6 separate regions of the Homo sapiens genome follow, and regions 1, 2, 3, 4 and 6 are each linked to region 5. The links come from fine-mapping of genetic effects on gene expression. A gene starts in region 5. Each other region holds a variant in brackets. All regions are shown on one strand. Distances are from middle to middle.

Region 1 (4,101 bases), 96 kb after region 5:
TCATGGGAAAATTCAATTTATGCTTAGTGAGGCTGGCTTTTCACTTGTGGAGCAGATATAAAGTTTTCTTGATAGAATGAAGAGCGTTAAGTAATTGGAATGTATACAGGTGCTATGTGGTTGTTGGGAAAACTAAACCCAGGTCACTCCCACTCCTGCTTACACCCTCACAGGATGAAGCTCCTGCTCGGTCCACTGGCCTCATGCCCCACAGCGCACCCATCCCCACACTTCATGCCCCATGTAGATGCAGAACTACAGGAATATTTTCCAAGTTAACCAAGCCTTTGCCCTTGCCACTTCATGTACCTGCAATGCCTTTATCCTGCTGGGCCACCCGGTGAATTCCCATTCATGCCACAAATCCCAAGACAGGCATCACCTCCTACAGGAAGCCTTCCCTGAATGACTAATCCACCAGCTAGCAATCATTCCTGCCTGTCTACCAGGTTGCTCCTATTACTGCATTTAGTGGCTTTAGTGGCTTACTGTTGTGCAAAGATTCTTTTTTATTTATTTATTTTTTTTTTTGAGACTGAGCCTCGCTCTATTGCCCAGGTTGGAGTGCACTGGTGCAATCTCTGCTTACTGCAACCTCCACCTCCAGGGTTCAAGTGATTCTCCTGCCTCAGCCTCCCGAGTAGCTGGGAGTACAGGCACCCGCCCCACGCCCGGCTAATTTTTGTAGTTTTTTTTATTTTAGTAGAGACGGGGTTTCACCGTATTGGCCAGGCTGGTCTCGAACTCCTGACCATGTGATCCGCCCGCCTCAGTCTCCCAAAGTGCTGGGATTACAGGTGTGAGCCACCGCGCCCGGCCCTGTGCAAAGATTCTTAAACTGCTGCAGGTATTACAGTCATCTGGGGGGTGGGAATTTGCATTTCAAATGATTCCCAGCTGAGGCTGCTGCTGCTGCTGTTTCTAGGACCCCACTTTGAGGACAACTGTTGGAGTGCAAGGAACACAGGCTGAGTGTCAGCCTACTGGGCTCTAATCCCAGCTTCATCACATGGGCTGTGTGTCTTAGTGCAAATTACTTACCTTCTCTAGGCTTCAAGGCCTCTGTGATAAATCAGAAAACAATCCGCACCTTGTAGAATTTCTGTCAGGATTATGTGAACTCATGCAGGAATGTAGTTGACGCCAATTGTGAATTACTTTCACTCCCCTTACCCAACCGAGTTTCCTGAGGGCAGGGCCCACATCTGCAGCCTCTGAGATGCCTAGTGCCTAACACATAGTAGGTGGGAAGGTATGCTGGGAAGTTATTGAGCACATTCAGGAATGCACACATTCTCAATGACAGATTTATTCAAACAGTGAATCACACGTCACACATGTCCTGCCTCCATTAATTCTCAATCAGTGGAGTTGGGTCAGGTCTTCCTTCCACTGGGACAAAAGAAGGTGTTGTTTAAATCAGTAACATAAAGATGACTGCAAAAAGGGATGTTTAACTCACTTAGGAGACGCTGTTGATTTAGGAGCACTTAATGGCATCCATTTACAAAACAGGTGAACCCAGCACTTATTATAAATGAACGTATCTATTCATTACAGCAGAGGCCCTGCATTCCCTTGGTAGCTGTTCTTTGGTGTGAACTCACTACATAAAAGGCAGCAGGCTGTCTCCCCAACAGCTACCAGGAATGCAGCCCCGGCCCTGCCACGGTGTCTAAGCCAGTGACATCCAGGTGAGATGTTCTGAAGGAGGGCAAGCCCTTGCAGCTTTCTCTCTGTATTTTTTCTAGATTCCCTCAGTTTCTCCACCCATTTTCATATGCAGATAAGCCCCAGTTTTGGTAAAGCTACCAGGAAAGAAACCGAAGTATACCAAGGATGGCCATTCGTTTTGCCAACGGGATAGCGCTTTTTTTTTTTTTCCCTGGAGACAGGATTTTATACTGTTGCCCAGGCTGGAGTGCAGTGGTGCAATCATGGCTCACTGCAGCCTTGAACTCTTGGGCTCAG[C/G]TGATCCTCCCACCTCAACCTCCCTAGTAGCTGGAACCACAGGCATGTGCCACCACACCCGGCTAATTTTTTATATTTTTAGTAGAGATGAGGTTTCGCCATGTTGCCCAGGCTAGTCTCTAACTCCTGAGCTCAAGCAATCTGCCTGCCTCAGCCTCCCACCTGTAATCCCTCAGCTGGGATTACAGGTATGAGCTGCTGTGCCCAGCCTGACGCCTCCTTTTTAAATAAAATCTTTAGCTGATGGGTTCCTTTAAATACTGAGCTCTCCTAGCACACTAGAGATGAGAATCAGTGATTTTGAAAAACCATTTTTCCAGCCCTTCCAGAATCTCTCTATGGTATAAAGAGGGGTGGGGTGCAGGGAATTGCTGAGATTGAGACAAGGATAAGCATGGGGAGAGGGAAGGAGACCTACCTTAGCCCTGTGGGTGGTCCCTGAACTAGAGTGAATCTGGATCAACATGATTCACCTGTCCAGCAGACATTTATTGAGCACCTGCTATAGACGGCAGGGGATACAGTGGCAAATGAACAAAGTTGCAGAGCTACTTTCTGGTGGAAGTGACAGTGAGTACATAAGTGATTAAGCCAGATAATGATGGACTGTGAGATGGGCTTTAAAGGGAATCGATGAGACAGAGAGAATGTGGACGAAGGTTCAGGAAGGTCCCGAGGAAGAAGTGACAGAACATACATGTATTGTCGTAGAGCCCTTCATGTATGAGGTCTGTCTCCCAGACTCTATGCCTGAGGGTGGGGCTTGGAAGCTGCAGAACCCAATTCTGCTCTGGTCCCAGGCTCCCAGGGGGATCTGTAAGGGACCCTGTGAGTGTTGGCTCCACCGGAGGATGTGCTTCCTTGAGTGAGGAATGGTGAGGCGCAGGCAGCCGGGGAAGAGGTGGGGAAAAGGCAAGGACCGCTTCCCCACTGTGACCCCACCTGGGCTTGTGGGGTGTGCTCAGCAGGGCTGGCAGAGTCCCTCCTGGGGCGGCCACTGCTGCCCCCCTCCTGCTTTTCCCCAGTGTCACTCCCTTCCAGAGGGCCAGGGGCAGACCCCAGGAGGAGAGTACAGCAAAGGGAGCGGGGAGTGGTGTACACTCTGGGAGTGGGGTTCAGGGAGCAGGCTGGGTGTAAGCAGAGCACCGCTCAGGCCCAGCACCGGATGGCTCACTGAATTCTTTTCAGCAACCTAAGAGACATAGATTATTCAGTTCCATTTCACAGAGGAGGAAACTGAGGCTCAGAGAAGTGACGCCCAAGGCTATACAGCCAAGAAGGGAGCCGAGCCAGGAGTCTGCCTCTGCAGCCGTTGGGGGGCAGATGCCAAGGTTGCTTTGGTTACTCACACATCAGCTAAGGCAGAGACTTTCTTCCCGCAGAGGTCTTCCTCCTGGGCCTTGAAGGTCAGATGGAATAGTGTTGTAAGAATGAACTTGGGACTCAGTCCTGGGTTCTCATCCCTCACTAGCTGTTTGCCCTTAAACAAATTCTTTAATCTTTCTGAGCCTTGGTTTCTTTTTCTGGATGAGAAGATAGAATAGTCCCTACCTTAGAGTTCCATTGTGAAGCTTAAATGAGACAACCTGTCATGCATTTAGCACAGAACCTGCATTCAATAAGCACCTTGGATATGGGGAAAGAGGGACTGTGGAGCTTCATGGTTAAGTTCATGGTTTGGGGACCAAATGGACCTGGGCTCAAATCCCTGATCCAGCCAGGCACTAGCTGTGTGGCCTTACATAAGTTATTCAACCTCTCTGAGTCTCAGTGTATCTGTAAAATGGAAGGTTGTTGAGGATTAAGTGTGGACACTTCTGTAAAGTGCCTGGTCCAGACTGTGTGCCCTGTGAGAGGAGGCTGCAGGAAGAGGCAAGAAGAGGCAGAGAGTTGGGAAAGGAGGCTTAGGAAGACCAAACCACTTGCCCAAGATTCAAGATCATGCTCCAGAACATGGAGCCTCCGTAAGCCATGAGCATCCCCACTATGGGACGCAGCCAATGGCTGGAAAAGGTGCTTACTCACTCAACACACCTTGGCTCCTCTTGCACTTTTGCCCCCGTACAAGGTGCCAGGGCCATAGTGAAGCAAGGGGAGGAACTTGCAGGCTCTGAAGGGCTGCCGTGTGCC
Region 2 (4,000 bases), 320 kb after region 5:
GTGCAGAGAACCCTGTTCAAAATAGAAATATGCCCTGGAGGCTTCTGCTGTCAGTCATTCCATCTCGATATCGATGCATTTTAATGGCTAGTGACTTCCTAATGCCTAGCTGAATTCTGCTCTGAGAAATGGGAAGTTTTATTCTAGAAAAGGGTAGGCCAGGCGCAGTGGCTCACGCCTGTAATCCCAGCACTTTGGGAGGTCAAGGCGGGCGGATCACAAGGTCAGGAGTTCGAGACCAGCCTGGCCAATATGGTGAAACCACGTCTCTACTAAAAATACAAAAATTAGCCAAGCATGGTGTGGCGCCTGTAATCCCAGCTACTCCGGAGGCTGAGGCAGAAGAATCACTTGAATCCGGGAGGCAGAGGTTGCAGTGAGCTGAGATCATGCCACTGCACTCCAGCCTGGGCGACAGAAGCGAGACTCCATCTCAAAAAACAGAAAAAAAAAACGGGTAATGGAGTCTGGGGCCTACGAGATGGGGGATGAGCAGGGATGGGACTGGACACTGAATGTCCAAGGGTAAGAGGAGGCCTGTAGAGAAGGAAACACGCATTCACAATGGCCCTGCTAAGGACTGTCCTGCCATTTTCACATACTATAAGGTAAGCACTATTACTGTCTCCGTTTTACAGATGAGAAACCCAGGGCACAGTGAAGGATTAAGTAACTAGCCCATGCTTCCATCGCTAGAAGAGGCAGAGGCAGGATTCCAACCCAGGCAATCTGGCTCTAAGACACAGGGGAGGAGGCTTCCTGCCAAGGTCTTGTGGTAGATTCTCTAGACCATTCTCAAATGGGGGGTGATGTTTGCCCCACAACAGGGGTCATTTGGCAATGTCTGGAGACATTTTTATTGTTATAGCTGAACAGGAAAGTGCTACTGGCATCTGGGAGGAGGCTGCTAAACATCTCACAATGTGTTACCCTGTCCCAAATGTCAGTCGTGTTGAGGCTGAGAAACATGGTTTAAATGAGTCAGAGGCTGGCCACAGTGGCACGTGCCTGTAGTCCCAGCTACTCAGGAGGCTGCGGTGGGAGGATTGCCTTAACCCAGGAGTTCAAGACTAGACTGGGTGATATAGCAAGACCTCTGTCTCAAATAAAGAAGTAAAAAATAAATGAATCAGAGACTAGTAAATCTACCTCCTCTCAGATTTAAGGTCTCAGCCTCAGAGCTGAGAGAAGAAGAAATAGGGCAAGGAATCAGAAGGAAGCCTGCACTTCCTGGCTCAGCTGCTATAACAGAGACTCATAGCACATGGGCTCCATTAAAAGAAACTTCTTTCCTGTGCACGTAGCTGTCAAGAGGTGGCAGGTGGCTCTGTGTGTGAGGCCGGCCGGGGCCCAGGATTCCCTTGCCTTTTTGCTTAGTCATTCCTGGATGTTGGCCATGTTTGTGGGATTGGAGTTGGTTCACCAACTTCAAATCTGCATTCCTGTCAAAATTGTACCTAGGCTGGACATGGTGGCTCACACTTGAATCCCAGCACTTTGGGAGGCCAAGGTAGGAGAATTGCTTGAGCCCAGGAGTTCAAGACCAGCCTGGGCAACATAGAGACACCCTGTTTCCACAAAAAAAAAAAAAGAAAAAGAAAAAGGATTGTGCCTGACTTTTCAGGCACAGATAAAAACTGATTTCCTTCATGAAGCCCCCTGCTAGTTGCCTAACCAATACCCACCACCCCAATTCCCACTCCCTTAACCCTCCTCCCTCCACTACCCCGG[C/G]CTTCTTGCTTGCCAACAGAACTACCATTTTTTTTGTTAATTATTTTTCTTATTCCTTTGAATGTTGAGTGTTTGTCTTTTTCTTATTTATTTGCCAAGCTCTTTGTATATTAAGATATTAACTAAGGTGATATTAACTACTGATTATTGTTATTCCTCCAGGAAAAGCCATGGAGACTTCAGCATCCTCCTCCCAGCCTCAGGACAACAGTCAAGTCCACAGAGAAACAGAAGATGTAGACTGTACGTTTGCCTTCTCTGACCCTCTGGGCAAAACCACATGGGAGGTGGAGTCCAAAAGTAGAAGGGACAGAAGAAGACCCTGCTCAACTCACGTTGCACAGGGCCTCAAATCACAGCTGAAATGGGGAAGTAGTGGTTTTACACACATGCACACACACATTTGCATGGTCCAATCTGTCCTCCTGTGCTGTCTAGCTATGGGGACCCTCAGCTGCTTGCCAAATCTCAAGAATTCTCTGGGGGCTTGGGCTGGCACTAGGGAGCACCCCTAGAAGGTGGAGAGGGTCCTGTGTGACCCCAGAATGGGGAATGGGAAGGTTTAGGACTTGATCACACCTCATCTTGGCTGTAATGTACAGAGGATCCTAAATTAGCAACTACTCTACAGAATCTAGCTGTCTCTGGGCAAGGCAGGGGGCTTAGAAACCCCTTTTCTGGCCGGGCGCGGCGGCTCACGCCTGTAATCCCAGCACTTTGGGAGGCCGAGGCGGGCAGATCAGAAGGTCAGGAGATCGAGACCATCCTGGCTAACACGGTGAAACCCCGTCTCTACTAAAAATACAAAAAATTAGCCGGGTGTGGCGGTGGGCGCCTGTAGTCCCAGCTACTCAGGAGGCTGAGGCAGGAGAATGGCATGAACCCGAGAGGCAGAGCTTGCAGTGAGCCGAGATAGCGTCACTGCAGTCCAGCCTGGGCAAAAGAGCAAGACTCCGTCTCAAAAAAAAAAGAAAGAAACCCCTTTTCTGAGTCCATATTCAGATAAATCTCTGTATTGAGCCTTCCGTGAGCCCCTGGCATCTCTGAGAGCCTTGGTCTCCTGCATGTTGCATTGGCTCTAGATATTTGGGAAGATAATCCAGTCCTTCCTGGCTCTCCAAATCCAAGTAGAACCCTGGAGAGGACTGGGTGGTCCCTGGGGTGGGAAGGGTGGGAAACGCTCATCCCCTGGCCTCTGTGTGCCTTGTAGATGGAGAGACAGATTTCCACAAGCAAGATGGGAAGGCTGGACTCTTTTCCCAAGAACAATATGAGAGAAACAAGTCTTCTTCCTCCTCCTCCTCTTCCTCCTCATCCTCCTCATCTTCTTCATCCTCCTCCTCCTCAGGTATAGCAGAGATTTAAATATATGTATATTATTCAAGAAAAAGATTTACATGGGGAAATAATCCCCCATACTTGAAGTCATTGAAGTACTTGAAACTCCAATACCGTTTCTCCACATTCTCTTCTAGAGCCGATCTGTCTACATGTGCTTCTACGTACACAGTTATCATTGATCGTATAGGCAATTTTGTCCTCCATTTAAAATTTTCCCCATCTTATCCTAAGCTTTTAGCCATGTTGTTCTGTAATATCGCTGTAGCTATTTTTAATGTTTACTGAACAGCCCCTCAAGTGGCTGCATCTCATGTAAAGTAACATTTAGGTTTATTAGAGGCACCCCAGTGCCATAGTCAAAGCGTGTGTTACAGGTTCAAATCCTGTCTCTACCACTAAGTAGCTACACGTCCTTGGGTAAACTGCTCAACCCCTGGCGCCTCAGTGCCCTCATCTAGAAGATGGGGATGAGAGCAATACATAATACCTCATGGGATTCTTGTGAGGATGAAATTCGTTATACAGGTAAAGTCTTAGCATGTAGCACATATTAAAAGCTCTAAAAGTAATTGTTGTGTTATGGTCTTCCCCTCCCAGGTTTATCATGCTCATGAGCATCCTTGTGCGAAAGCTTTTGCCTTTTGAATTTTTGTGCAAATCATTCCTAAGTATTGAGTCCTTGCAAGTACTTTAGTGGGTTTAGAGGAACAACATCCAATAGCATCTTTTTTTTTTTTTTTTTTTTTTTTTTGAGACAGAATCTTGCTCTGTTGCCCAGGCTAGAGTGCAGCGGCGTGATCTTGGCTCACTGCAACCTCCGCCTCCTGGGCTCAAGCGATTCTCCTGCCTCAGCCTCCCGAGTAGCTGGGATTACAGGCATCCACCACCATGCCTGGCCAAATTTTTGTATTTTTAGTAGAGATAGGGT
Region 3 (4,101 bases), 57 kb after region 5:
TTGGCTGCCCTGGCCCTGCCCCCCTCTGCCTTCCCACCGTGGCTGCATCTGGGCAGGAGGGCCGTGAACAGCTCAGCTGGCAGCCAGCCTTTGAGAGCTTCCAGGGAGCTTCCTGGACAATTAGCCATCTGATGCCCCTCTGCAGGAGGGCCAGTGGGCGTTCCTCTTGGGACAGAGTGCTCACCACCTCCCAGCCTGGGCCATGCCTAGGCAGCTCTGACGCGAGGACATTTGTTCCCACTTGGAACTGGCACCATCCTTCCTGCGGTGCTCGCTGCCACCCACCCACACACTGAAGTGGCCTGGCCCTGTCCTCTGAGCCTCACAACCCATCTGCTCCCCAGCTCTGGACAGCCTGCAGAGACCAGGACTCCCTGAGGCTGAGGAAGGGGTCACCAGCCTCCTCCCCACCCACGCCTTCTGGACACACCCTGGCTCGTGCTGTCTATCTCCGGGAAGAGCCCAGAGCTGAGTTTGGGATGGGCAGGAGGTCCTGGGCAGAGCAGAGCAGAGCCGCCACTTCTCTGGCTCTGGGCACTGCCTGGAGCACACATAAATTCCCTTATGGCTGCTTTCCCCTTTCACCCGTGGGCCTCACCATTGCCTCAGCCCTGCCAGCCTCACCTCCCTCTCCTCGGTTCCCATCTCTGCTAGTGACTGCCGCCCCCTCTCCCTGCATCGAGTCTTCGTTCAGGGGATGAAGACCTACTCTGTGCCTGACACTGTGCCAGGTGCTAACTATCCATTCCCACATCCAGCCAGCTAGCGCCCACCCTGTGAGGAGCACTGTCCCACAGCACAGAGGAGGACCTGAGTCCAAGGCTTTGCGTTACTGGTTTCCTCACCGGAGTTGTGGGTGAGGCTCTTCTTGGCAAGCACCACAGGGCAGCACTTGTCGCCGAGAGCTCAGAGCCCAGCAGCAAGGCGGCATGGGCATGAGCCACTCTGACACATGGGAAGAGGCTTTCTTCCGCTGATCAGCAAGTAGTTTGCTGAGCACCTATTGTTTGCTGCCCCGGGCTAGACCCTGGGGATACAGCAGTGAGTGAGGTGGACACTCAGGCCTCCTGGAGCAGATAGATGTTCAGGTGAGAGAGAAATGATAAAGAGAAAATAAACAAATGAAGATGCCTTCAGGCAAAGATCGGTGCCAAGAAAATAAAACAGGGAGGGATGACAGAGTGATCGGGGAGAGGGAGCCACATGGCCTGGGGAGGTCAAGAAGGGCCTCTCCCAGTGGCCGTCAGTGGATGAATAGATAAACACAATGTGGTCTGTCCATAGTGTGGAATATTATTCAGCCACAAAAAGAAATGAAGTTCTGGCACGTGTTACAGCACAGGTGAACCTTGAGGACATCATGCTAAGTGAAAGAAGCCAGACGGAAGACCACAGAGCGTATGGTCCCGTTTCTAGGAAATGTCCAGAACAGGCAAATCTATAGAGACGGGAGGTAGGTTTGCCGTGATCCAGGGCTGGGGAGGGGTTCTTTTTGAGTGATGAAAATATGCTAAACATAGATAGTGGTGACAGTTGCACCCCTCTGGGAATATACTATTAATAAAATCATTGAACTATACATTTTAAATGGGTGAGTTGTATGGTGTGTGAATTATATCTTAATAAGACTGTTTGAAAAGAAAACAAAGACTCGTCTGCAGTGGTGGCCTTGCGTTGAGAGTGACAGGGTGGAGTGAGTTTGTGAGGACCTTGGGGAAGAGCAGGCAGAGAGAGCAGCTGGTGTAAGGACCCTGAGGTCTGTGTGCACCTGCAGGAGGAGCACAGAGGAGGAGGCTGGCAGGAGTCGAGAGGGCGGGAGGAGCAGTCCCCGTGGTGGCAGGGCCAGATCCTGGAGAGGGCTTGAAAGTTGACTGGGGCGGGAGAGCCAC[G/A]GCTGGGTAACATTGCTGTGCTTTCTGTTTTAAAACCGTCACCCGGGCTGCTGTGAGGAAATGAGACTGTGGAGAGGGAGTGGTGGGGCGTTGGGGGCAGGGAAGGCCGGTTGAGATGTGGCGGCCGGCCACTGTTTAGATGAGAGATGACAATTGAGACCCAAAGAAGGAGACAGACAGACTGGCTGGCGGTTGCAGTGGGAATTCAGACAGGGACAGAGCACTCCTGGCGGAGAGGAGGCTTCCTGGAGGAGGGGCCTGGGCCCGGACACTGGCAATGTCAGGATGGGCTGGTGGCGGCTCTCCAGATGGCACCCCTGTGGGGGATGTGGGGGGCCCTGCCTGGCCATGGGGAGACGAGACTGGCCACCCTACCCTGGCACCACCCCTGGGTCCCCTTTGGGCCCAAGCTGCTAAGTAAGTAGGGCACCCTCTCTCCAGGGACCCCTGTCACACTACTTTATGCTGCTGGCTCCAGCTGGCCCTCCGTGACAGTGCAGTGCCCATGTGGCCAGAGACCCAGAAGGGGCCCGGCACTCTGAACAAAGCAGTCTGCCTGGAACTTAAGTGGCCCTGAAACACGATCAGGCACCAGAGACTGTCCAGGGAGGTGGGTGTATTATTTATTGACTGGGGCCTGCCCAGTGAAGCCATTTGGGTTTGCCAGACCTGGAAGGAGCCCCCTCAGCAGTGCCTGGGGGCCTTTTGGAGGGCAGGTGGGCGGGGGCCCCAGGGTGCCTGGCACCCTCTCCCCTGGGTGTGGTTTCCTGGATGCCGACTGAGCAGGGAGGAAGTCAGACGTCAGGACCTGCTGTGGGGATGGACCCACAGCTCATCCCCCGGGGCCGCAGAGGCAGGCCAGGCACTGGGGTTCCAGGGACACCTCCGCCCCCTCCACTTTGAGACTGTGAGTACCACCCACCTGGCCCGGGGAGGGGACCTCAGCAGCCCTGAGAAACCTGTGAGGGGCTGGCGACTGTCAGGGCAGCCTGCCGTGGTGAGGGTCTTGGGGGCTGTCGTCAGAGTTTTCACTGTTTCTCAGAGCTGTATTCTGTGACCCGTTTCTCACTGCCTGGAATGCACACAGGCTCGCCCTGGGCCCAGGAACACCAGGTGTTTCCCCACAGCCGCAAGGGGAAGTTCTTTAGCTCCCCTGCGCGTTAGACCAGCCCCAGGCCCCATTAGGGTTGAGAACCAGGGCCCCGCAGCCCACCTGGATGGCAGGGAGTGTTGGGTCGCTGCCTACGGCCCTCACAACCACCCTGAGAAAGATGGACTCTTGACAATGCCCAGTTTACAGCCGAGTAAACTGAGGCCCTCAGAAGTCACACAGAAGTCAGAAGTCCTCAGAGGCCCTCAGAAGTCACACAGTGGCCCAGGGCTCCTGGAGCATATTTGGTGTGTTTCCTTCCCACACTGCTGCCCCCCTCAACCCTATGGTGCATAAACTTTGAGCAAATGGAGGTTTATGGCTGAGGGAACACAAGGCTTCCCCAGGCTGTGTTGAGGAGACACTGCCTTGCAGAAGTCTTCCCTGCCCCAGGCTCGCTGGGGCCATTTCCCATCTGGCAGTAGCCCAGTATGTGTCCCCCCAGGAGCCCCTTGACCCACTGACAAGTTCAGTATCTTTCTGAAATGATCCAGAGTGGAACCTTGAGGATCTGTAGATCCCTGGGGCTGGGAGCGTGTTGGGGGATGTTCCCTGGGTTCTGAGCTGTAACCCCTGAGCCTGACCTCTTGGGGTCCTTGGGCCAACAGCCCCTGGCTCACTGGGGTCATCAGGGAGTTCAACAGATGGGTCAGAGGAAGCTTTTACCGACCCAGCCTCAGGGAGCAGCCTGGGAGCTCTCACTCCCAGCCAAGCCTCCCCCACCCCAGCCCTGGCTCTTGGGGGCAGGCAAGACAGATAGCCCTTTCCTTAGGACTGGAGCCCAACCAGTGGCAGATGGAAAAAGTGAGGCCCAGTGATAAGGAAGCAATGGGCACCTTCACCCCTGCCCCCACGCTGCAGACAGAAGGCTGCTCAGTGCCCTGAGGGGTCAGTCACTCTGTCTCAAATCCCAGCTCCCCAGTGTGCCCCAGCCATGTGACATGGGACAGATGTCCCAACATCTCTGGGCCTGGGTTTCCATATAACCCATAGCGAAAGTCCTCCCTTCCGGGGTTGTTGTGAGGCTTAGATGGTGAAGCAGGCCTCTGTGGGGAATCTCCC
Region 4 (4,101 bases), 45 kb after region 5:
ATGCCCGTAATCCCAGCTACTCAGGAGGCTGAGGCATGAGAATCGCTTGAACCTGGCAGGTGGAGGTTGCAGTGAGCAGAGATTGCACCACTGCACTCCAACTTGGGTGACAGAGTTAGACTGTATAAAAAAAAGATTTTAGACAGAGCATGATGGCTCACGCCTGTAATCCTAACACTTCCGGAAGCTGAGATGGGAAGATTACTTGAGGCCAGGAGTTCAAGACCAGTCTGGTTAATGTAGCGAGACCTCATCTCAAAATAAATAAATAAATAAAGGTGGGACGAGGGTGGAGCTGGGAATGGTCTGGGAATGGAGGAAAGCCATGGAGCAGGTTCAGGCAGCAGACTTACCTCTACAGGTCTGGGTATTGGGAAACAGCCCAGAGGCAGCAGATGACAAGGAAAGGAGGCAGGGAGGCCAGTGAGGAGGTGAGGACCCAGCCCAGGGTGCTGCAGTCCTTACCAGTCCTCACCAGTCCTCTTTGAAGGGGATTTGTGTGGACACGTGCACGCATGCACGCACACACACATCTCACACCGCATGTGCGCACACACACTCACGCTCACGCACAAGGGGAGGGTTCCTGTTTGGCCCCCCTTGACCTGGACGGCAAGACCCAGGGAGTCAGGATACAGGGGCTAAAGAATTGAGGCCTCTCAGCACAACAAAATGGAGATTGAAGGGAGCAGCTTTCTTCTTTGTCTAAGGAAGGGGGTAGTGAATAGGCACAGCCTGCAACAAAAAGGATTTAGGTTAGACATTGAGAAAGACTTCCAAGCCAGCCGAGGAGAGCCGTGTTATGTAGCGGTTATGAAGCATGTCTCAGAACAAAGCTGCTTCAGTTCAATTCCCCACCCTGCCATGTTCTATCTGTATTAACCCTGGGCGTGTCTGTGGACCTCTCTCTGCCTTCCTTTCTTTATCCTATAGATCAGATAGTAATAGCACCTACCTCATGGGATGAGCCTAAGCATTAAATGAATTAGTCACACATAGAGCAGTGGCTACAGGAACCATTCAGTAGCCCTTAGGTATCACCGTTCTTGTTGTGTTGATGGAGAGCTGTGTCACCCTGGAAGTTTTAAAGACGGCCATAGCCAGAAACTTTCAAGGCTAGAGGCTTAGAAGGGCAGTTGCTATATATTCGTGATCTTCTATATAGCTTTACACAGTACAGTCACACAGCGTTAGCTCCTTCCATTTGTTTCATCTTCACAACCCCTGGAGATAGATCCTATTTTTCTCCCCATGTTGTGGATGAAGAAACTGAGGTAGGCCAGAAGGTGTGAGGAACGGCTTGTGAGGATCCCTTGGCCAGCGCAGGTCTCAGAATCAGGACTTCTGATCCGGAGTCCCAGATCTGCGGCTTCCTTACTGTGTGACCTCAGGGCAAGTCGCCTCCACCTCTGAGACTCCATTCTCCATCTCCAACACTGAAGAATGAGGCCAGAGCCTCCGGTGCCTATGTTGTCTGATTTCCTTGCATAGAAGATCTGAGCACAAACCCTGATGGTCAAACCCAGTACCATCTGCCCTCCCCATGGCTGAAAGGAAACGTGTCAGAACCCTCAGAAGGGACAACCCATGGGGACTGGCTGTCACTTTGACTGATTGCTAATGTGAGTCCTTCCATCTGGGGTGTCATCTGTCCCATGACCATGCCACCTGCAGAGGCACCCAGTTCTAGGGTCTGGCTCTGCCCTGACCCCGGTTGGGGTCACCTTAGCAAGTTCTTGGAAAAACATCCCCCAAACAGCCTCTACCCAGATGCTCAAGAGCTGCTCAGGATCCTGTTTCTACCCTCCCATGGCATAACTCGATAAGACTGTGCAATTGTCTTTATACTTCCTGCCGGCCTAGCCTGGCCCAGCCTCGGGGGACAGCTGACAAACAGAGGCCAGACGGTGAGCAGTCCCTGGCCCCAGATCCCACCCTGGCAGGTCATGTCCCTTATCTGGGACTCAG[T/C]TTTATTTGCAAAATAAGGGCAGAGGGATCAAGTGAGCTACTTGTTCATTCATTCATTCGGCAGGTATTCATTCATTAACTCCCCCTCTGGGCCAAACCCTATGCTTGAGGCGTGAGAAATGGATAAGCAAACCCCCTATTTGTCCTCCTGTCACTTCCAGTCTGGGATTATCAGCCCTGCGGGGCTTTGAGGGGCCACAGGCGTCTCTGGAGCTGAAGCAATCATGGGCAGCTTCCTGGGGGAGGAGGCAGCTAAGTGGACCTTGAAAGACAAGAAGGAGCGGAGGATACAAGAGGTATCCTGTGGGCTAGACACTCACAGATGTATTTTATTTGGCTTGCATAGGATTAACCTACATATCATTGTAAATTTGAATTTATTGCAAACATATAAAAATCAAGAGCTGTTACGTAAAAACCTGGATTTCTGATATCTGAAAAATCAGAGCCCTTATTCCTACAGAGCAGCCATCAGCCAGAGCCAAGCCACAGTTGTTCTGTTTGACCAGTCGGAGTCCCCCCGTTCTGCCTTGCCTCATCATCCCTCCAAACCTGCTCCCACTGGCCATCCCTGTGTCCCTGTCACCGTGGATGGAACCTCCATTTTTCCAGTTGTTCAGGCCAGCAACCCAGGCATCATCTTCCACTCCTCTTTTCTCTCTCACCTCCTCATCTTATTGATCAGACATTTCTACCAGTTCCACTTTGAGAATGTCTCTAGAATCCAACCTCTTGTCCTCACCTTCCTGTCCACCACCCCAGTCCAAGCAACAGTTCCTCCCTGGCCCCTGCCTGGCCATTGCCCCCTTGCGGTCTCTTTTCTGCACAGCAAGTAAAGTGAGGCCCTGCAGGCCAAGTCTGGCAACTTGGACGCTGGCCCTTTGTGCTCCATAAGATGGACTTGCGGAAGCTCTTCTCTGCCTTCTTTCCCAGCTCCTGCCCTGAAGTGAGTGCCCAGCCCCTGCCTGCGCACTGGATATTAGTGGCCATCCTAGGCCCGAGACAAGATGGTGGAACTCAGGATGCCAGCTGCCTGGGAGGCTGGGAGCCCACTACTGTCCTCCAAGACCCAACGCTCTCAGCACCCTGGACTTTCATTTTTCCATTTGGAAAACGGGCATTCCAGCACCCATCCTCAAAAGGCCAATGCTTCTTGAGAAGGGGGATCCAGGGTTTTGAAGTTCGGCCAACTCGGTGTATGTGCCTTCCTGCGCCTTGCATGGCTCTGGGCACCATTGGAAGACTGCAGATATAAATGACAAGTGATTTATTTTGTTTTCAGCCTCCAGAGCTTTAGCTTTAGAGTCAGATAGGCAGAGCTGGGTTTATATATCATCCTGAGTAACTAACCTCAGCATCTGAACCTCAGTTTATTAATTGGTAAAAAAAAAAACAAACAAAAAAAAAAAAAACTGGGGAGATAATAACTGCTACTTCATAGGGTGATTGTGCAAAGAACTAAGCTACATAGATCTCCTCACCTGCTCATGTGAGCTCTCAGAGCAGTGAGGGAGGGATGCAGAGACAGGTCATCCAAGTGCAGGGAAGAAATGGCTGCAGTCCAGGCTCAGGGAACGGAGAGGATGCAGGGCAAAAAAGGATGGACTCCTGGAGAAGGGAAGTGTATCATCCAGAGAAATGATCTAGTTTATACGCCTTCTTCATGGCACAGCCCACTGTGGGAAATCGTTTTCATTTGCTCCCTTGGTACAGAAGGAAGGCCAGCCCCACCAGGCTCCACAGTTTTGTTCACCAAATCCTCAAGTGATATCTGGCACAGAGTAAGCCAATTAATGAATGTTGACTGGGTGAAGGAACAAGCCAATGGAAAATTGGCTTCCTAGAGGAGGTGTCGTCTGAGTTTGAGCCTTGAGCATTGGGTCCTGGTAGGAAACATGGGTCACTACACAAGCTCCCTTGCAGTGTGGCCCGTGATGGGGCTGTGTGCAGGGTGGGATGGGGTTAAGGGAACTGGACACCTGGGCTGGCAGAAGGGGGGAACCCTAACCAGCCCTGGGCCAGAGGGTTGGGGGAGAGAACAGTTTCATGAACCAGAAAGAGAGAGACCTGGGTGCAAACAGCCACCCATCAGGACTGTGGCTGCCGAGGGGCACAGGAAGCGAGGACAGAGCT
Region 5 (4,101 bases):
ATGCCAGGGTCCTTGCCATTTCCTCTGCTTTGAAATAACAGCATAACATGGAAGGAAAAGGAGAGTACGTTTATAAGAAGAAGTGCTGAAGAAGCAACGGATGTGCAGATGCATGTCATGGGCCTCCCAGGGAGCAAAAGAGGAAGCCCAGGAAAGGGACACTGGGTGCTCCACACTCAAGGCATCCAATTCACCACTCTGAGCCTGTTTCCGCCTCTGGAAGATGGAAGTGAGAAGAGAATCGCTAGTTGAGCAAGGCGGCTGAGAGGGGCATTGCTCTAGCCCGAGCCAGGCTGTGAGTTAGTCTGGGCTCTGCTGCTGCCTTGATGGGAGACCCCCGTATGTGGTGCAACCCATCTAAGCAGGAGTGGTAATTATGTTCACTTCGTAGGGCGCTTCTGAGAATTCACTGAGACCATGAAACAACTGGACCTGACACAAAGTGAGCCCTCCTGATGCAGTGGCTGAATTTTGATGTTATTAAAATCTTTTGAAACTCCAGTGAGGAGAGGGGTGGGGTGGGCTCTGCAACATGTTAACCCACAGAAATATGAATTCCTCACATGACTCAGGGAGGGAGGTCCGTGCTACAGGAAGATTGGTCATGCATATGGATTCACCTGGAGAGGGCAGATCGGGAAGCGTCATGCAGTTCTGTTCGATGCCTCACCTTGGCCACCTGAGGCCGCAGCTCCAACCTCTGCTCCCTACCAGGACACTGAGCTGGAAGACTGGGGTCCTAGTCCCACCTCTGCCACTCTTTGCTGTGCAACTTTAGGCAAATCGCTCACCCCCTGAGGTTCATTTCCTCCCCTGTAAAGGATGGAATGGAACTCAAGGATGCAGCATCACTCCTTCTAAATTCGGTGAGTGTGAATCTGGAGAGAATGGAAAGAGGAAGGGAAATGGCCCTGTGGGCTGCCATCCACATCCAGCCGATTCCCAGTCTCAACTACTCCCTCTCTCATTTATTCCTCCCAGTGAGGCAGCTTTCAAGCAGTCAAGAACCAAGACTCTGGAGCCAGACTGCCCGCCAGCTATGTGGCTTGGGCCAGTTGCTGAACCTCTGGCTTTAATGCGCTCCCCCGTGAAGTAGGATGATAGTATTAGGCCTCATTGGGGTTGTCTTGAGGATTACCGTGCACGGAAGAATATTATCTACATGCCTCTGAGATAGGTCTGGGATTCCTGGTTTACAGATGAGGAAGCAGAGAGGATCAGATGAACATCAGACAGGAAGAGAGAAATCTGTGTGGGAAAGGCGGGTGTGGGAGCCGAGGATGGATGTGCGCTTCTCCCCTCCACCTCCCTGTCGCACACTGCACCACGCTGGCCTCCTCTGGGCCAGTCAAATACACCAGGCTGCCTTCCGCCTCAGAGCCTTGACGCCAGCTCCTCCCCTGCTTCTTGCGTCATCCGAGTCTCAGCCACACGTGCCTCACAGAGGGCCTTCCCGACCACCCCGTCTGATGGCAGAAGCCTCCTTCCCGCCTCTCTTGGGGTCCCTGCCTCCCCTCTTCCTGCTCTCTTTTCATCCTGATCCTTATCACCACGTGCAATCCTATATCTGCACACTTACTTCCTGGCTTCCCCTTAGACTGTAAACATCATGAGGGCAGATACTTGCCCGGCACATGGAAGGTCCTCGGGAGAGGAAGAGGCACCATAGCTAGACCAGAAATTCTCCCTAGCCACGTGCAGCCCCCTTTGGGACAGGACTGGCACAAACGAGGACTGCTCTGCCATCCACCGTGCAGCTACTGGCGTGGTGCGCCCTCCTGGAACCCCGTGGTATAGCTGTTATGATCCCTTTCACAGTAGCATAATCAAGACTCCCAGGAGAGACGCGGCTTGCCAAGGTCTCATCGCCCTTCAGTGGCAGAGACAGCCTTGGAGTCGGCCGGCCTCACTCCAGGGCCAGAGCCCCGAGAGCTCCGCGGCTCGCGTGTCTCAGTGCCGAAGGCAGAAAAGCCGCCTTGGAAAGTAGTGTCATCGTAGGCTCCGCGCGGCGCGTGCATTTTAGCAACAGACTTCCAGGTTTCCAGCGCGGGCCAGGAAGGGGCCGGCGCCCCGCGCCCCGCCGGGTGTGTGACTTTGCCGCGAGGGCGCAGCCGAGCGGCCGCGCCTGATGCTGCTGTTGCCATGGCGACCAGCGCCTCGGCGATTGGTCCGGCGCGGCCGCACTACGTTGCTCCTTGGGCGCGGGGGGTGGGGGAGGCTCCGGCGCGCCCGCCCCTTCTCCGGATGCTGCGAGAGCAAACCCGGGGCAGCCTTCTCTCGACCCTCCCCTCCTCATCCCCGCGCCCCGCACCCCGGATGGACGGGAGGGAAAAACCCCAAGGTGGGCCCAGGTAGCAGCGAGGTGGACGCCCCCGCCCAGCCTGGCGACCACGGTTACTCGACGTCCTCGCTCGCTCCTGGGCACGGTGTGAGCGCGCGCTACGTGCCAGGGCCCTCCACAGCCCGCTGCTGGCGCCGCCCCCCGCTCCCGCCCCAGCCTCCCTGGAGGAGCCCGCCACCCCCGGGAATGTGACTCGCCCCGCGATTTAATTTTATTCCCCTCCACTTCTTGCCTGAGCCGCCTGCTCCTCTTGGAAACACGTTGAGCCTCCCCGCTGGAGAGGGAGCCAGAACAGGGAAGAACGGATTCACACAGGATGGCTTGCAGAAGACGCTATTTGTGAGTATATGTGGCAGGTTTCTGCCTGAAGCCAGAGGCCAGAGGGGCCCGGCTGAGCTGGGAGCTGGAGTGAGGGGCATCGTTGGGGGAGGGGCAGGTGGATGTGCAGGTGACTTGCAGAGGGAGCTGGCCACCCAGCAGGGATGCCGGCGCTCGGCCCCTGCAGCGGAGGTGTTTGTTGGTGATGACGATGAGAAAAAGGCTATTAGTCAGCAGGTCTTCAGCAGGCTGTGAAATTCCCAACTGTGAGAGCAGGTATCCCCCCTCCCAGATCCACATTCAGGGTGCCCAGACCGGCTCCTACTGTTTTGGCTTTGGTTTAGCCCATAGCCTGTTTAGGAAGAGAATCTCTGCCCAGCACGCCCATGGCCAGCCCTTCAGCCATGCCTGATAGAAGGTCGCAGGCAGGCTGAGGCAGTGGCCAGGATGCTGCGTCCTCCAAGGGCAGGTGAAGGTCCAGCCCACCGTCCCTAGCACGGAGGCATCAGTGTCCAGCTGTGTGCCCAGGTGTTCTGTGGGCTGGCAGCAGAGCGGCTGTGTGCTGGGCCTCACGCCAGCAGCAGAGGCTGTGAAAGTCTGCACGGGGCGGTGACATCACGGGCCCGGGTATTTATGGAAACCAAAGCCTGCGCTTCGGTTAGCCAGGCTTCCCAGGGGGCAGTGGGGTTCGAATGCCAGCTTCCCTCACAGCTCTCTGGGCGCTGCACTGTGCTGTTCTAGGAGGAGCAACCTTTGCCCTCCTCTGGGACCCTCGGCTGCGGGGGTTGAGGCCCAGCGTCAGGTCTCCACCTGCCTAAACTATTTGCCCAGGACCCACTCATTTGGGGCTGTGCAGTGACCTCAGACCTTAGGAGGTTAGAGAGCATGGCTGAGTCCTCTTGAGCTGGGCTCAGTCGCAAGGCTAGGAAAAGGAGGCCTGGAGCAGTATGTGGGGAGCCTTCTGGGGGCTACCCCAAGGCCTCCCTAATCGATGGAGGCCCCTTACCATGGCAGGGGCCTGTGGAACCCCTGATAGAGTGGCAGCTCCCCGTCACCTCCACTGAGGGAAAGTAAACACACCTCTGCCTCTGCTGCGTCAGCAGTGCCAGGCGGCAACCCACGGGGGATGGCGGTGGCCTCTGGTTCGGGGGATGGCGGTGGCCTCTGGTTTGGGGGATGGCAGTGGCCTCTGGTTTGGGGGATGGCAGTGGCCTCTGGTTCAGGGAATGGCAGTGGCCTCTGGTTCGGGGGATGGCGGCCTCTGGTTTGGGGGATGGCGGTGGCCTCTGGTTCGAGGGATGACGGTGGCCTCTGGTTCGCTGTGATGCTCACTTGCTTTTTTAGTGGAGAAGCTCACAGGTTGGTTTGTCGATGCGAGCAGAGCACACCAAAGTTCTCACTCCCTGTGGCAAGGCCCTCGCTGCATTTTCTGAAACAAATAG
Region 6 (4,101 bases), 130 kb after region 5:
TGCTATTCTCCTGCCTCAGCCTCCTGAGTAGCTGGGACTACAGGCGACCACCACCACGCCCGGCTAATTTTTTGTATTTTTTAGTAGAGACAGGGTTTCGCCGTGTTAGCCAGGATGGTCTCAATTTCCTGACCTCGTGATCCGCCCTCCTCGGCCTCCCAAAGTGCTGGGATTACAGGTGTGAGCCACCGCGCCCGGCCTTTTTTTTAAGTTTAAAATCAGTGGTGTATTTAATGCAGGTGGTAGGAGAAAAGGCGACAGAATTCGCTGAGTCAGTAATTGCTGAGCACCTGCTGTGTGCCAGGCACTGCTCTGGGCTCTGGGGGTGATCAGCGACCCAGTGGCCAAAACTGCTGTCCTCAGGGAGCTGGCATTTGCATGTGGATGATGGACAGTGAGCAAAATCAATGAGGAAGGTATATGGGATGTCAGAGGATGGTGCACTTCACAGAGAAACTGAACCCGAGTGGGTGGGGTGCTGAGTGGAGGGGTTTTGCAGGGTCCTGCCAGCTGCACATGTGGACTCAGCCATGGGGTGTGAGAAGAACGGGCATGGGGGCTCCTCCAGGAGCATGGTGGGGTCACGCCCCACGGCCCGGTGTCGTGTTCAGATTTCCCGCTTACCAGAAGCTTCTCACCTCTCTCTCCTCTGCAGCGTCGAGGGCGAGGCCCCCAGCAGTGAGACTGGCACATCCCTGGACAGCCCCTCAGCCTACCCCCAGGGCCCCTTGGTGCCCGGTTCCAGCCTGAGCCCGGATCACTACGAGCACACGTCAGTGGGAGCCTATGGGCTGTACTCGGGGCCGCCGGGGCAACAGCAGCGCACGCGGAGGCCCAAGCTGCAGCACTCGACCTCCATCCTGCGCAAGCAGGCTGAGGAGGAGGCCATCAAGCGCTCACGCTCACTCTCCGAGAGCTATGAGCTCTCCTCGGACCTGCAGGACAAGCAGGTAGGAGAGCACAGCCCCTCAGGCCACACATGCAAGCGCAGGGCAGCTCTGCCCACCATGTGTGCCCCCACCAGGCATGGTGGCAGATCTCTCCCATAGACTTGAGTTGGGGTGCATGTGGGCTAAGGCTGAGGGCTCTGCCCCAGTTCCAGCTCCACCTGTAGCTGCTCTCAGGAGCCTCTTGCCCCAGCTGGCTCTGGCTGGCGTGTATGAAGGACCTGGGTTGTCTGGCGTTCCTTCTGGGGACTTCTAGAGAGTTGTCTTCACATGAGGCCTTTGCCATGGCCCGGGTTCCATGACCCGCATGGCCCAGATCTGGGGGGCCATGATAGGTGTCTGAGCATGAGGCCCAGTGTCATCGGGACACACTGGGTACGTGGCCGGCCACTGAGGTTCTAAAGACCCAGGAGAGGGCTGAGGGAGGGAGGTCCATTGACAGCATAAATATCACAAGCTCTGGAAAGAACCCCATCGGCAGCCAGCCAGGGGAGGCTGCTTGCTCTATTCCTCCTGGCTCACACCTCCCTGCTCCTGTGGGAAATCCCCTCATTGAAGACTGCACCCCTCCCCCAGGGGCCTTGGCCCTTAGAGGTGGCCCAGACCCACAGTGTGCCTAGGGCTGGGCTTGAGGGAGGACAAGAGGTAGCCTCTCAGGGTTGAGCCAGGAGAGGAGAATCCTGGGGTGCAGAGGAAAGAGCGAGGCCCTGAGCGGTCCCTGGGGAGGCCAAGAGCTCTCGCTTCCAAGTCCCTCCAAGTGCAGGTGCACAGTAGGTGTTTGAATGAGGATCTGAGTGACTGCACAGATGGATGAGTGAGGGGGTGAGTGGGCCAGTGCATGGACAAGCCGCTTAGCAGTTTGAGGCTTCAAGAGAACCCGGGCTCCCAGGCAGCAGTTCTGCAAGCTTGCAGGGGCAGGCTGGGGAGGGCTGTCAGACTCTCCCCAGCTCCTGGGCACTGAGCTCTAGACAGCTCCTCCAGATGCCCAGGCAGCTGCCTCTGCCCCTGCTGGCCCCAGGGCCCTTTCCCGTCTTCCCAGACTCCATGCTGCAGAAGCCCCTGGCCTTCACTCCCACCCACACCCATCCTGTGGCCCCGCCCGCCCTCTGCTTGCTCCCAGATCTTCCTGGTTATCCTTTTTCTTTAAAAACAATTTTTGGGTTGTTTTTGTTTGTTTGTGTTTGCTGGGAGTATAGATTC[A/G]AGTTGCTCCCCTTTTTGTCCTTTAAGGAGTAGAGTTCTGGGCCTGGTGTGCCCCAACTTCCTAAGGGAGTGGTGCAGATACTGCCTGGGGTTGGGGGTCGTCCACTCTCTTGACAGGGAAGCCCCCATCAGCCCCTTCCTCACCTGGCTGTCGGTGCTGCCTTGCAACTTAGGCCGGACCGACACAGGGCAGAGCAACCTCTGTTCCTTTATCCGTGATGCCCAGATCCAAAGTGGACCACGGTTTATAGTAAGAGATGTCTGCAACAGAGCCATTTAAACAGAAAGGAGAAAGGTTGGGACTTAATAGAGGCCTTTGAAGAGAATTATATGCTTACTGTGGGCCTAATAGGACTGCAGCTATTCATTTTCATTCCATGCATATTATCTGAACGCCCACTATGCACCAGACACTGTGTTGGGTGCCCATGACCAAGGCGAGGCCCCTGCTCTTGAGCTCCACTGTGGCACAGGAGCTGGACAGGAGCAAGTTAGCAATGCAGAGGCAGTTGACTTCCAGAAAGTAATGCAAACTCTAGGGATTCTAAACATTGGGGAAAGAAATAGGGCAGCTACGGGAGGCAATAGCATTGGGTAAGGCTGGTTGGGAAGACCTCTCTAAGGAGGCATTAGAGCTGGCTGTCCCAGGAAGAGGCAACAGCTGATGTAAAGGCTGCCGAGTGTGTGAAATGGAAAGGAAGGCCTGGAAGAGGTTCCAAAGAGGTAAGAGGGAGGAGGCGACATCAAGGGCCACTGAGCATTTGATGGTCCACTGAGCTTCCTGGAAAGCTCAGCAAAAGTGGGAATGGGACAGATTGCATGGGAATCACCAGATGAAAAAGTAGGGTGCCCGATTCCACGAGGAGTTTTAAGTCTGGATAACACAGAGTCCATTTTAGTGAAAGGAGCCCAAGGGCTAGTCTCCTGTGCTCTTCTGGCCCCTGACCCACTGTGCCCTCCAGTGGCTTTCTGTCCCTGAAGCAGGAAACTTGAGTGGGTTTCAGGTACTGTCCCTGTGTCATCAAGAAGTGACAGTTCTGCTTTGCTGAAGGGCATTCTTCCGGGTTCCTCTTCTGTACTGCTCAGAAGTTTCCCTTGAAGGGACAAGTGAGGGCCGGATGGGGGAGCCCTGGCCACGGGGTCGACTCCTCTATCCAGGAACCATGTGCCCTGGGGCAGCGGCTTCCCTCCGCTGAGCGTCTTCCCTCCGCTGAGTGTCTTGTCCTTGCTGAGAAGTGGGGTAGTGAAACCCCTCGGGAGAGCAGAAGCTGCTGTGAGGTGGCATGAGGGTATGGGGGTCCCCAGCACACATAGTAGATGAGCACATGTTAGTAGAATCTCATCCACTGGGTCCCGGGAAACTTTTCGACCGGGCCTGGCAATAGTTCCATCCCAGAAAGAAGAATGACCCACGGTAAGTTTGGGGACGAGGAAGAGTAGCCCCAGGTCCATGTGTGTCCCCCTGGGGGAGGAACTGCCAGGGGCTCTGGTGAACAAATGCAGAGCCCATTGCTGCCTTCCTGAAGTCCCTTCGCCCCCAACACACACAGGTTTGGGCAGGAGGTCTCAGGAAAACAGGGTGGCTGCGTGGTCTGCGAGGTCCGGAGCCAGCAGGTGAGAAGGCCCTGCGGGGAGCTCTAGGCCTGAGCTGGAGGTCCTCGTACTTGTGCCGCCCACAAAGTACAGTGAGGGAAGAAAGGCTTCCTAGATCCCAGCCTTGGGCCTCTTATGGGCCCCAGGGGCTTTCTAAGCTCCACTCACAACCCAAAAAATAGAAACTTTCTGCTTACAGTTGTGGAAGTGAGGTCATTTCTTGGATGGCGTTCAGTAACAGGGCGAGAGAGAAAACAGACTGTGGCCTGGGATTGGAAAAGTCATTTTGATCTGCTCCCCTCAAGCCCCCCCAGCTCTTCTCCTCCACCCAGCCTGCTGGGACCACCCAGAGCCAGGCAGC

The links. PIP is the estimated chance that this variant, and not a neighbour inherited with it, causes the effect.
Region 1: its variant is the best candidate, but not a certain one, in a credible set for the expression of IQSEC1 in nasal epithelium (TOPMed, PIP 0.69).
Region 2: its variant is the best candidate, but not a certain one, in a credible set for the expression of IQSEC1 in whole blood (TOPMed, PIP 0.81).
Region 3: its variant is the best candidate, but not a certain one, in a credible set for the expression of IQSEC1 in whole blood (INTERVAL, PIP 0.89).
Region 4: its variant is the best candidate, but not a certain one, in a credible set for the expression of IQSEC1 in whole blood (INTERVAL, PIP 0.80).
Region 6: its variant is the best candidate, but not a certain one, in a credible set for the expression of IQSEC1 in esophagus mucosa (GTEx, PIP 0.51).

What each region holds. Positions count from the first base shown.
Region 1 is chr3:12,975,135-12,979,235 of GRCh38, reverse strand. All of the region lies in intron 1 of IQSEC1 (IQ motif and Sec7 domain ArfGEF 1), which reads left to right. Among named protein-coding and RNA genes, the nearest start is that of LINC02022, 92 kb to the right of the region's middle. RefSeq lists an enhancer at 1-186. The variant C/G (reference allele first, on the strand shown) is at 1,972.
Region 2 is chr3:12,747,734-12,751,733 of GRCh38, reverse strand. TMEM40 (transmembrane protein 40) reads left to right here. Exons shown (of 12, transcript NM_018306.4): 2 at 1,894-1,974; 3 at 2,942-3,079. The coding sequence starts at 1,902. Among named protein-coding and RNA genes, the nearest start is that of TMEM40, 9.5 kb to the left of the region's middle. RefSeq lists a silencer at 1,964-2,113 and an enhancer at 2,384-2,433. The variant C/G (reference allele first, on the strand shown) is at 1,732.
Region 3 is chr3:13,014,273-13,018,373 of GRCh38, reverse strand. The region is part of intron 1 of IQSEC1 (IQ motif and Sec7 domain ArfGEF 1); the gene reads left to right. Among named protein-coding and RNA genes, the nearest start is that of IQSEC1, 57 kb to the left of the region's middle. RefSeq lists enhancers at 1-319, 320-1,119, 1,581-1,690, 2,311-2,410, 1,696-2,463 and 4 more. The variant G/A (reference allele first, on the strand shown) is at 1,890.
Region 4 is chr3:13,026,144-13,030,244 of GRCh38, reverse strand. All of the region lies in intron 1 of IQSEC1 (IQ motif and Sec7 domain ArfGEF 1), which reads left to right. Among named protein-coding and RNA genes, the nearest start is that of IQSEC1, 45 kb to the left of the region's middle. RefSeq lists enhancers at 2,431-2,930, 2,931-3,432. The variant T/C (reference allele first, on the strand shown) is at 1,969.
Region 5 is chr3:13,071,571-13,075,671 of GRCh38, reverse strand. It overlaps IQSEC1 (IQ motif and Sec7 domain ArfGEF 1), which reads left to right and starts at 2,243. Exons shown (of 14, transcript NM_001134382.3): 1 at 2,243-2,680. The coding sequence starts at 2,658. RefSeq lists silencers at 1,868-2,047, 2,168-2,327.
Region 6 is chr3:12,938,420-12,942,520 of GRCh38, reverse strand. It overlaps IQSEC1 (IQ motif and Sec7 domain ArfGEF 1), which reads left to right. Exons shown (of 14, transcript NM_001134382.3): 2 at 656-950. The region is part of intron 4 of LOC105376956 (a long non-coding RNA gene); the gene reads right to left. Among named protein-coding and RNA genes, the nearest start is that of LINC02022, 55 kb to the right of the region's middle. The variant A/G (reference allele first, on the strand shown) is at 2,148.